Linked DNA regions of Homo sapiens. The protein of the gene in region 1 interacts with the protein of each later gene in a biochemical or structural test. Each region holds a gene or a part of one and is shown in the gene's direction. Other genes may lie near its edges. The genes, in order: POU5F1 and FOXD3.

Region 1 (4,129 bases):
TGAGAGATCATTTCGCTTGGACTAAAACAAAGTCACTATGTCTGCAACAGGATCTACCTAGCCACCAGACCAGCTTTGGGCTCTGGAAGGCCCACTTCAGGGCCTTGCCACATTAGACTCTTGTCCTTTGCTCAAACAATCACCTTCTCTGTCTTTAAAAGTGTCACCCTCCTCCATAATCTCCTTCCCTCCTTTACCCTACTCCTATAGACTGCTTTATTTTTTTTTTAATTTTTGAGATGGAGTCTCACTCTGTCCCTCAGGCTGGAGTGCAGTGGTGCGATCTTGGCTCACTGCAAACTCCACCTCCTAGGTTCAAGCAATTCTCCTGCCTCAGCCTCCTGAGTAGCTGGGATTATAGGGGAGCGCCATGATGCCCAGCTAATTTTTGTATTTTTAGTAGAGACAGAGTCTCACTATGTTGACCAGGCTAGTCTTGAACTCCTGACCTCAAGTGATCTACCCACCTTGGCCTCCCAAAGTGAAGGGATTACAGGCATGACCACTGCGCCCAGACTGCTTTACTTTTTTCCATAATATATATATATATTTTAAATAGAGGCAGCAGGGGTGGGAGAAGGGGCGGCACGGGTCTCACTATGTTACCCAGGCTGCTTTCTAACTCTTGGGCTCAAGCAGTCTGCCCACCTTGGCCTCCCAAAGTGCTAGGATTTACAGACATGAGCCACTGTGCCTGGCCATTTTTTATTTTATTTACTTTTTTATTTTTCAGAGCAGGAGTGGAAGTTTATTATTAAAAAGTTATAGGGCAGGGAAAAAAGGAAAGTGCACTTGGAAGAGATCCAAGTGGGCAACTTGAAGAACAAGTGCCAAATAGCACTTCTGTCATGCTGGATGTCAGGGCTCTTTGTCCACTTTGTATAGCCGCTGGCTTATAGAAGGTGCTCGATAAATCTCTTGAATTTAAAAATCAATTAGGATGCCTCTATAGTGAAAAAGATACAGTAAAGATGAGGGATAATCAATTTAAAAAATGAGTAAGTACACACAAAGCACTTTATCCATTCTTATGACACCTGTTACTTTTTTGCTGTGTTTGTGTGTATGCATGCCATGTTATAGTTTGTGGGACCCTCAAAGCAAGCTGGGGAGAGTATATACTGAATTTAGCTTCTGAGACATGATGCTCTTCCTTTTTAATTAACCCAGAACTTAGCAGCTTATCTATTTCTCTAATCTCAAAACATCCTTAAACTGGGGGTGATACTTGAGTGAGAGAATTTTGCAGGTATTAAATGAACTATCTTCTTTTTTTTTTTTCTTTGAGACAGAGTCTTGCTCTGTCACCCAGGCTGGAGTGCAGTGGCGTGATCTCAGCTCACTGCAACCTCCGCCTCCCGGGTTCAAGTGATTCTCCTGCCTCAGCCTCCTGAGTAGCTGGGATTACAGGTGCGTGCCACCGTGCCCAGCTAATTTTTGTGTTTTTAGTAGAGACGGGGTTTCACCATGTTGGCCATGCTGGTCTTGAACTCCTGACCTCGTGATCTGCCCACCTCGGCCTCCCAAAGTGCTGGAATTATAGGCGTGAGCCACCGCGCCCAGCAAAGAACTTCTAACCTTCATAACCTGACAGGTGTTCTCGAGGCCAGGGTCTCTCTTTCTGTCCTTTCACGATGCTCTGCATCCCTTGGATGTGCCAGTTTCTGGGGGAAGAGTAGTCCTTTGTTACATGCATGAGTCAGTGAACAGGGAATGGGTGAATGACATTTGTGGGTAGGTTATTTCTAGAAGTTAGGTGGGCAGCTTGGAAGGCAGAGGCACTTCTACAGACTATTCCTTGGGGCCACACGTAGGTTCTTGAATCCCGAATGGAAAGGGGAGATTGATAACTGGTGTGTTTATGTTCTTACAAGTCTTCTGCCTTTTAAAATCCAGTCCCAGGACATCAAAGCTCTGCAGAAAGAACTCGAGCAATTTGCCAAGCTCCTGAAGCAGAAGAGGATCACCCTGGGATATACACAGGCCGATGTGGGGCTCACCCTGGGGGTTCTATTTGGTGGGTTCCCCTCTGCAGATTCTGACCGCATCTCCCCTCTAAGGAGTATCCCTGAACCTAGTGGGGAGGGGCAGGGGCAGACTACCCTCACCCATGAAGAGGAGTAGGGAGAGGGAGAAGATGCTTTGAGCTCCCTCTGGGAAGAGGTGGTAAGCTTGGATCTCAGGGTCACAAGGGCCCTGCGTGCTCCCTCACTTTGCTTCTCTTTTGACTGGCCTCCCCCAGGGAAGGTATTCAGCCAAACGACCATCTGCCGCTTTGAGGCTCTGCAGCTTAGCTTCAAGAACATGTGTAAGCTGCGGCCCTTGCTGCAGAAGTGGGTGGAGGAAGCTGACAACAATGAAAATCTTCAGGAGGTAAGGGTGGGAGGGGGATACCCGGGGACCTTCCCTTTCTTGGCCTAATTTCCATTGCTTCCATCACTGGCTCGTAGCTCTCCGTCTTTGGTGCAGTGGTTCTCAGTGGGATGGAGTGAAATTCCTCAGTTCTGCTGGGATAAGGTCCAGAGCCAACCCTTCCAGGATCCTGCCTTTTCACACCACCACCTGGCTCTGCTGACACATCTAGTCACAGACCCCTGTGATGCTGTTACTCAGCAAGTCCAAAGCTTGCCCTTGTCACCCCCTTCCCACCTGCACAGATATGCAAAGCAGAAACCCTCGTGCAGGCCCGAAAGAGAAAGCGAACCAGTATCGAGAACCGAGTGAGAGGCAACCTGGAGAATTTGTTCCTGCAGTGCCCGAAACCCACACTGCAGCAGATCAGCCACATCGCCCAGCAGCTTGGGCTCGAGAAGGATGTGAGTGCCATGTCTCTCTGCGGGCTCCATCTCTTTCCCCTGTCACCACCTCGCTTTCCCTAGCTCTGGCTCCTCCAACTGCTCTAGGGCTGTTGGCTTTGGACAGAATGTCCAAGCAGTCAGGCCTGTCTCAGCTCATTCTCTAATGTCCTCCTCTAACTGCTCTAGGGCTGTTGGCTTTGGATAGAATGTCCAAGCAGAGTCAGGCCCGTCTCAGCTCATTGTCTAATGTCATTCTCCTTTCTGTCATTCACTTGCAGGTGGTCCGAGTGTGGTTCTGTAACCGGCGCCAGAAGGGCAAGCGATCAAGCAGCGACTATGCACAACGAGAGGATTTTGAGGCTGCTGGGTCTCCTTTCTCAGGGGGACCAGTGTCCTTTCCTCTGGCCCCAGGGCCCCATTTTGGTACCCCAGGCTATGGGAGCCCTCACTTCACTGCACTGTACTCCTCGGTCCCTTTCCCTGAGGGGGAAGCCTTTCCCCCTGTCTCCGTCACCACTCTGGGCTCTCCCATGCATTCAAACTGAGGTGCCTGCCCTTCTAGGAATGGGGGACAGGGGGAGGGGAGGAGCTAGGGAAAGAAAACCTGGAGTTTGTGCCAGGGTTTTTGGGATTAAGTTCTTCATTCACTAAGGAAGGAATTGGGAACACAAAGGGTGGGGGCAGGGGAGTTTGGGGCAACTGGTTGGAGGGAAGGTGAAGTTCAATGATGCTCTTGATTTTAATCCCACATCATGTATCACTTTTTTCTTAAATAAAGAAGCCTGGGACACAGTAGATAGACACACTTATCTTGGTTTGTCCTTCAGTTACTGAGGTAGGGATGGGAATATCCAATGCTCATACCCAAGTGACCCTGAAACTAAGGTGCCATTTACACTCCTTAAGGTCACACAACATCAGAGGGAGAGCTGGGATTGCAGCCAAGTTTATTTGTACAGGGCCCTGTGATAGGCTAGTTCCCAAAAGCCTGTGATGCAAGAACTTTTGCCCATAGACTCAGTCACCATGTAGCTGTTACCTGTTCAGAGCTGGCTTTTTGCTTTCCCACCCTACTCTGGAATTCTTAAATGGCTTTATACTTAGAAATCATCTTATTTCTGTTGAACCTAGATCACCCCAACCAGAAACTTCTATTAATACTTTGTGCTTTCTTGATACCAGGGTCTATTTGGTTTCCACTTAAGGTTTTTGCATACTCTGCCCATAAGTGACTCATTAGTTACTCAAGTTTTATTCCTGGCTCTGCCACTAGTTCATTAGGGGTCTTTGCCCCAGAGTCATTTCTTCCATTTTAAAAACTTGGGCTCATT
Region 2 (7,913 bases), on another chromosome or scaffold:
CCCAGCGGACAGCCGGGCCTGGCCGCATCGCTCCAAACGGTGTCAGAAAGACTCCGGCTTTCAATGCCAAGTCATTTTTAAGCCCCGATCCTGTCCAGGACCTTTCTCCTCGTGGATGAAAAGAACAATTTTCGAGAGAAAGGCTCGTTTTTATTAAATCCGACATGCTGCTGATAACTCCATGCTAATGTGAAATAATTAACATAATAGCCATAATTAAAAGCACGCTAACAATGCCATAAATTTATCACACAATTTTACTAGCTTTCTGCCCCTAACTGCTCTCTCATCGTTAATTAAACGTGTTGCCTTTTACAGAATGGATGTTTATATATTTCCAATATAAATAAATTCGAAACCATCCTCTCTCTCTTCCTCTTTCTCTCCTCCTTTCCTTTTGGTCTCTCGCCATTTACAGGCACGCCTTGGCGTGGACCCTGAGTGGCAGACATCTTGAAAATAAATGAAGTTTTGAGATGCAAATCCAAACAAGAACATTAAAATAGCCTCTTTTTTTCCACCCCGAAAAGATCCGGAGAGGTATACAAGGGGGTAGTGGTGGGTAAGAGAGTTGAAAATCCCCCGCTTTGGGAAATGGAAGTAATCTGGGTGGGTTGGGGCCTTGGGTACCACCTCTGCCCTTTCCCACCTTCCTTGGTGGCGGCCATCCAGACAAAGAGGCCGGTAATAGTTTAACAAATCTATGAAGATTTTCAAGAAGCAGCAGACTTTGATTGTTGCGGGCGCGGGGGTGTTGGGGAGAAAGGAGGGGAATTTTTCTAATAGTCCCACCCACGTTTTGCTCCCTCTTGGACAAAGAGTAACTACTCTTGGTGGGGGACGCGCCCTTCACTCCGCGGAACCTGGTCCCAACTCCCCGTATTGTAAGAAAAGTGCACCCGCGCGCGGGCATGATGATTCTATCTCACATCGCGCCAACGACTTATTCAAGCCACTGGCACTGTCTCTGACTTAAAAGAGGAGAAAAGAGGCATATGGGTTCACTTGGGCCTGGTGAGGGGTAGGTGGGCAATTCCCGCCTTCCGCACTCTAACCGTGCCCCTCCTCCAGTGTTGACCACCTAAGAACCCAAAATGAGCTGTAATTAATTTCCCTTTCTCCATCATAAATTTTTCTATCCATTTCTTCCCCCCCATCCCCCCACTGGACGCACACACTAAATCTCCCCTCCCCTGGAGACGTCTCAATTTCCTTCCTATCGATCCGGACTCCATTCTTCTTGCCTCCTGTTGCTAGAACCTAGATCCCCACTCCCCGCACCCCTCATTCCCACCGCGTCCAGGTGGCTTTCCCAGCGGGGTACCATGTACTCTGCCCGCTCCAGAGGAACCGAAGGGGTTTCATTCCATTCTCCTTTGGTTGAAACATTTCAAACATTTGAGCAGGTGAGGCAGCTGGCTGCCATCTTCCTTTTTAAATCTCTCCTGGGAAGTTCGCTTGTTGAGACTCAAAGAGTCACTCAAACTCATAATTGCGTGTGTGTGTCTACTCATTCTCCCTCTATCTCTCCAATAACCCTTTGAGACTCAGAAACTTTTTATCCACATACACCCTTTATCACATTTTCTTCCCCCCACTACATGTGTCTCACTTTCTCTCTGTATCTGTCTCGCTTCTTCCGTCTCTGTCCTACAGCTTGGCGGTAACTGACGACCTGTGAGCTTTTAGCTGCAAACTGCAACTACGCGGCAAACAATTTATTTAGCCCGACATCTAGCCGGTCTCCGGCAGGACCCTGCACCGCGTCGGGATCGGACCCTTCCGCTGGGGCGGCCTCCTGCGTCAAGGCCAGCAGGAACCTTCCTGTCGCCCTCCCCGGCCGCCGCTTCGCCTCCTTCCCGCCCCCGGAGGTTGTGCAGGCGCTATGGTCCGCCTGGAGGGAGAAAGCCGGCGGCCGGTTCCTGAGCCGAGAGCGGCCGCGGAAAAATCCTCTGCCTCCGCTGGAAATCGATATTAGGCCGGCGCGGGCGCGGGACGTCGGGGCCGCAGCCAGTAGGTTGTGCACGTCTCATCATTTAGCTAATCGAGTCGAAAAGTTTCTGTAAGGGCCGGACCCAGCATCAGATGGTAACACTGATTGAACAAGAGATTAGCACAATAGATCTCTAACCGAGGGGAAGCGTTGCTTTTCACGCTACGCGCCGTAATTAATGGTATGAATCAATTAATTTGACTTTTATTGTGTCGAAGGAAAAAAGCGCAACAAATGGAACCGGCAGCTGGGAGTTGTTCGTCCTCCACCCCCTTCCCCAGGGAGGTTCCAAGGAGACACCGGGGAATGGACGGATCAGGCTGGGCCGTGGCAGAGGGAGGGTAGGAGGCAGCGACCAGCAGCGTGGAGGGAGTCCAGAGAGCTAGCCTCTGCGGACGGCGGAATCGAAATTAGGCTCATTTGGAGACTACTTCGAGACCGGTGAGGGGAGCCCTGTAGCCACCATCCTCCGGCGCGCATCCACACATACTAGTCCACGCGGGCCCAGCCACCAAGGCCGCGGCAGGGCCAGCGCTGCGCCCCGGGCCCCTGCCTTTAGGGCTGGGCAACCCAAGCAGAGCAAAGGAGGTTCCTGAATGTGTAAATTTCCGCTTTTTAGCTTTTTTTTTTTTTTTTTTTGGACCTTCCGACACTTCGGTTGCTGAGGCAGTTGCAGACGCGACCTCTGCAGTCCTGGGCGATGGCCAGCCAGCTCAGCTCGGGTCGGTTTCGCGGAAAGCTGTCTAGACGGCATTGTAAACGGTTCGGAGCCTGCGGGCCACAAAGCTGTGGAGCTACGGAAATCAACTCTGAGATGCGTTTTAGGGCCGTGTGCAACCTCGGGATCATTTAGATAAAGAAAAACTGTGGAGGTTGGCGGGCGTCTCAGGATAGTGTCACCACCCCCTACCCTGCTCCCAGCCTCAGATGAGTAGTGTTATATCCTGGGAAACTGTCTAATGGGGATGAAAGTCAATCTGTGTGTCTCAATGCCTGTAATGAAGCAAGTTTACAGATTTTTAAATTTTTATTTTTATTTTATTGAATTATTTTTGGTGTGTCTAGGCCAAGGAAAGAGGAGATCGTGGGTGGGGAAACAGACTGAGGGAATCAGAAGCACCACTGTCCATCCGGAATTAAATCCACATCCCAGCATCTTCTGCAAATATTTCACTAATTATTTCCTCTCGGAACTCCTCCCCTCGTGCTCCTTCCTCTGGTGAGGCCGGCGCTCCCCTCCCAGGCCGCAGCGGACAGACAGGGATTGGGTTCCGTGTGCCTGCCACACCAGGCAGGCTCTTGCGGCTCCCAACTAGGCGGCCTAAATGAGGGAGGAAAGAGGAGGCGCATCGCTGATTCACCGCGTCAAGAGCACTGACTTTCCTTGGAGGTGTGAGGTCCACGCACCCCAGCCACGCACTTGGGGGTCGGTTTGCGGTGCCTCCCCCTCCAGTCCCAGTGAAATCCCCACAGTTTTTCCTACTATCACTGACTTGCCTTGCACTCCGCGTGCATTGGCCACACATCCTCGCCTCCTCCACCCGCTCCGCCGCCGGTTTTCTTGGAAGTTAAATCTTGGAGGATTTGTCCACACCTTAAGAGAAGAAAATCCACGTTAGCTGGCAGCAACGGAGATCCCAGCATGCTGGCATGCCCAAGTCTGCCCAGGTTCCCCCAAGGCCATGCCCGCCGCCCGGGAAGTCACTGCCCGCACCCCTCACGTTTCTTCAGCCGCCCCTGGGCGCTGCGTCTAACCTGAAGACACCAGGCCTCTTCCCGGATCCACTCGACTTACCCAGGCCGCTGCCAATCCCAGCTCCTTCCCCAGCGCCTCATTTCCGATTTTTTCATATGCTAAGTCGTTTAACAACTCCAAGTAGCCAGTTATGGCTTCTTTATTTATAGGTTCCCTGCTATTTTACGTCGTTTTTATTTCTCTCGGCAACTATTCTAGTAGATTAATCAATAGCCATTTTCTGACCTTCGGGAACCCCAGCTGATGCTTTTTGTGGCCGCACGAAAAAATACATACAGGAAAACACGCCCGCATCAAGCCGGGAAAGAGCAGGTAGGACCTGAGTGGTTTGGTTGGGGGAGGGGGAAAAAGACATCTCAGCAGGTGTCTTCCCCGGAATGAGCACTGAGGCCAGAGGGGAATCTGAAATCTAATTAGCAGGAGGGAGCCGGGTGCGCTGCTCTTACTCTTTAAAGCTAAAAACAATGAAACAAAAAGCAAAACAGAGACTAAGTTTTGCTTTTTAAAACACGATATGGGAACCTCGTTCTAGGTCGCCCAGTCCCTGTCTAAGGAGTGTGACAAAGTGGGGGGGAGAAGGGCGGAAGGGAGAGGGGGCGGGGAAGGCAGGGCAGCGACAGTCGCACAGTCCCGCGGACGCTCCCAGGCCCACGCCCTGACTCGCTCACACCCACCCACACTCACACCCACCCGCTCCCTGGGCCCCAGGGCCCGGATCCAGCCTGGGTGGGGGGGTCTCCGGGCGGGCCGCAGCGCCCTCCGTGCCCCGGGGATGCTGGCGCACAGTGCGGAGCGGAGTTGCGCGTCTCTCGTCCCTTTGTTGACAATTCCCTGAACCAACTTGAGTTTGGCCGGCTCGGCCGCGGCCCTGACGTCACGCACGGTCACGTGGCCCCGCCTCCCGCTGGATCTTTAAGTAGAAAGTAATCTATCAGGCCAGTCCTTAAAACGGGACTTTCGACTACCGGGGCTTCGGCGTCCCTGACACCCAGCCCCCTGCCCCCCCGCTACTGTCCCTGCCCGCGCCCTCCCGAGCTGCTCGGCGCCCGGCGTCCCGCGCCCGCCTGGACCGCTCCTGCGCCCCACGCCAGGGCCAGAGGCCGAGGAAGGCGGGCTAAGTGAGGGGGCGCGGCGTGGAGAACCGCCGGGGCCGGGAGCGGTAGCGAGCGCCTAGTACCGAGCGCCAGGGACGGCAGGAGTTCGCGGAGCGCGGCCGCTGGGGGCGGACGGCAGAGCCCGCGCCACGCGATGCGGGGCCGCCGAGTGTGAGCTGAGCCCAGCGGGCCCCAAGCCACCTGCGGCCCCCTCCCCTCTCCCTGCCCCCCATCTTTCGGGGGCACTCAAACCCTCTTCCCCTGAGCTCCGTGGCAGCCCCCGAACACCCTCATCGCCCGCTGCCCCCTCCCCGCCGCCGCTACCAACCCCGAGGAGGGATGACCCTCTCCGGCGGCGGCAGCGCCAGCGACATGTCCGGCCAGACGGTGCTGACGGCCGAGGACGTGGACATCGATGTGGTGGGCGAGGGCGACGACGGGCTGGAAGAGAAGGACAGCGACGCAGGTTGCGATAGCCCCGCGGGGCCGCCGGAGCTGCGCCTGGACGAGGCGGACGAGGTGCCCCCGGCGGCACCCCATCACGGACAGCCTCAGCCGCCCCACCAGCAGCCCCTGACATTGCCCAAGGAGGCGGCCGGAGCCGGGGCCGGACCGGGGGGCGACGTGGGCGCGCCGGAGGCGGACGGCTGCAAGGGCGGTGTTGGCGGCGAGGAGGGCGGCGCGAGCGGCGGCGGGCCTGGCGCGGGCAGCGGTTCGGCGGGAGGCCTGGCCCCGAGCAAGCCCAAGAACAGCCTAGTGAAGCCGCCTTACTCGTACATCGCGCTCATCACCATGGCCATCCTGCAGAGCCCGCAGAAGAAGCTGACCCTGAGCGGCATCTGCGAGTTCATCAGCAACCGCTTCCCCTACTACAGGGAGAAGTTCCCCGCCTGGCAGAACAGCATCCGCCACAACCTCTCACTCAACGACTGCTTCGTCAAGATCCCCCGCGAGCCGGGCAACCCGGGCAAGGGCAACTACTGGACCCTGGACCCGCAGTCCGAGGACATGTTCGACAACGGCAGCTTCCTGCGGCGCCGGAAACGCTTCAAGCGCCACCAGCAGGAGCACCTGCGCGAGCAGACGGCGCTCATGATGCAGAGCTTCGGCGCTTACAGCCTGGCGGCGGCGGCCGGCGCCGCGGGACCCTACGGCCGCCCCTACGGCCTGCACCCTGCGGCGGCGGCCGGTGCCTATTCGCACCCGGCAGCGGCGGCGGCCGCGGCTGCTGCGGCGGCGCTCCAGTACCCGTACGCGCTGCCGCCGGTGGCACCGGTGCTGCCTCCCGCTGTGCCGCTGCTGCCCTCGGGCGAGCTGGGCCGCAAAGCGGCCGCCTTCGGCTCACAGCTCGGCCCGGGCCTGCAGCTGCAGCTCAATAGCCTGGGCGCCGCCGCGGCCGCTGCGGGCACAGCGGGCGCCGCGGGCACCACCGCGTCGCTCATCAAGTCCGAGCCAAGCGCGCGGCCGTCGTTCAGCATCGAGAACATCATAGGTGGGGGCCCCGCGGCTCCTGGGGGCTCGGCGGTGGGCGCTGGGGTCGCCGGCGGCACTGGGGGTTCAGGGGGCGGCAGCACGGCGCAGTCGTTTCTGCGGCCACCCGGGACCGTGCAGTCGGCAGCGCTCATGGCCACCCACCAACCGCTGTCGCTGAGCCGGACGACTGCCACCATCGCGCCCATTCTTAGCGTGCCACTCTCCGGACAGTTTCTGCAGCCCGCAGCCTCGGCCGCCGCCGCTGCTGCGGCCGCCGCTCAAGCCAAATGGCCGGCGCAATAGGGACGCGCCAATGGCCGGGACCCAGGGTCCGGCGGCGGCCTCGAGCAACAAATGCACCTCCAGGCTGCGCGCCCTGTCCCAAGCCCGGTCCCGGTCCCGCTGCCCAATCCTGGACTCTGCCTCTCCCCAATTTCCTTTCCCCTGAGCCCCCAACGCCTACCTTCCGCGGCCTCCATCCCCTCGCGCACACCTAAGCTGGTCGAGCAAACTCACCGCGCGCCCGCCGGGGATAGCTTTCCATACAGGTAAAACCGAAAACCGAATTTTCCAAAAATGCACCCCGACGGCGCCTGCTCTTAGTACCGTGGGGATGGGAGGGAAATTCTTTGTATATATTTGTAAAAAAATTATTGACTTTCCTTTTGGGGTTTTTATTTTTTTAAGAAAAAACAAATTCCGTAGATTTAGAGCTCTGAACTTTCATTTTTTTTGAAGGTTCACTCTCCGAAGTTTTATCTGAGAAAAGAATGTATAGAGACGTTGGGAGATTTTAAATATAAAAAATTTTCAAAAAGGCAAAAAGTGTCATTCTATTATAAAAGTCTGTTTATATATGAATGAATATATATGGTATTCTAAATGTTATTCCATCGTGTTGTACACAACTTTGTAAATAAATTTTTAAAATGCCCAGCCTAGTGTTTTATTTAGTTGTCTGAAGTAAATGGCAAGATTTTTAAATGGTATTTATTTGCCTTTTCTCCTCCCCAGAAAATCAAGGAATTTCAAGTAATGGCCTTTTCAAACTTTTTAAATTCATAATTTGAGTGTAAGAAAATTTTAATTGGAGAAAGGAAATAGTATGCCTAATTTAAATTGTGTTACTATTTTTCTTTTAGTTTTCACATAAAATCAGGATGTGAGTGATATCATTCATATCAACCCATTAAATCTAAATGACCAGACATTTCTGTAGATAAAGTAAGCTGTCATTTAAAAAAAGAAACCGAAACAACAGCAGTCTTTAAATTTTTTTAAAAAATGACTAGACTTGTATCTTCCACAATGAAAACTTCCCAAATGAGAGAGTTCTTGGTCATTTCAATTATCCTTTGAAAAGTAAGTAAATTCCAAACATCCCTCTTTTTAACATTTAAATCTTAGATTTTTGAAATTATTTCTTTTCATTCCTTAAGTGGAAGTGGTAAATAGACCCAGCTGGTTTTAAAATTTATGTTAAGGCACTTTACATTTTGCAGTGGGATTTTATTTATGTTCATCTGATAGATAATACATAGTTTTGTTTTCATAATATTTTCAAATAAGATATCTCATTTATATGGCAATAATCAAT

What was found.
Region 2: the proteins of POU5F1 (region 1) and FOXD3 form a complex in vitro, tested with the Homo sapiens proteins (one study listed by BioGRID).

The regions. Positions count from the first base shown.
Region 1 is NC_000006.12:31,163,815-31,167,943, reverse strand, and holds the end of POU5F1 (POU domain, class 5, transcription factor 1), read left to right. Parts: intron 1-773; exon of another isoform or gene 774-1,896; coding exon 1,897-2,017; exon of another isoform or gene 2,018-2,242; coding exon 2,243-2,373; intron 2,374-2,657; coding exon 2,658-2,816; intron 2,817-3,076; coding exon 3,077-3,343; 3' UTR 3,344-3,607; downstream 3,608-4,129. UniProt on the Homo sapiens protein: Transcription factor that binds to the octamer motif (5'-ATTTGCAT-3'). Forms a trimeric complex with SOX2 or SOX15 on DNA and controls the expression of a number of genes involved in embryonic development such as YES1, FGF4, UTF1 and ZFP206.
Region 2 is NC_000001.11:63,317,877-63,325,789, forward strand, and holds FOXD3 (forkhead box protein D3), read left to right. Parts: upstream 1-4,690; 5' UTR 4,691-5,182; coding exon 5,183-6,619; 3' UTR 6,620-7,252; downstream 7,253-7,913. UniProt on the Homo sapiens protein: Binds to the consensus sequence 5'-A[AT]T[AG]TTTGTTT-3' and acts as a transcriptional repressor. Also acts as a transcriptional activator. Negatively regulates transcription of transcriptional repressor RHIT/ZNF205.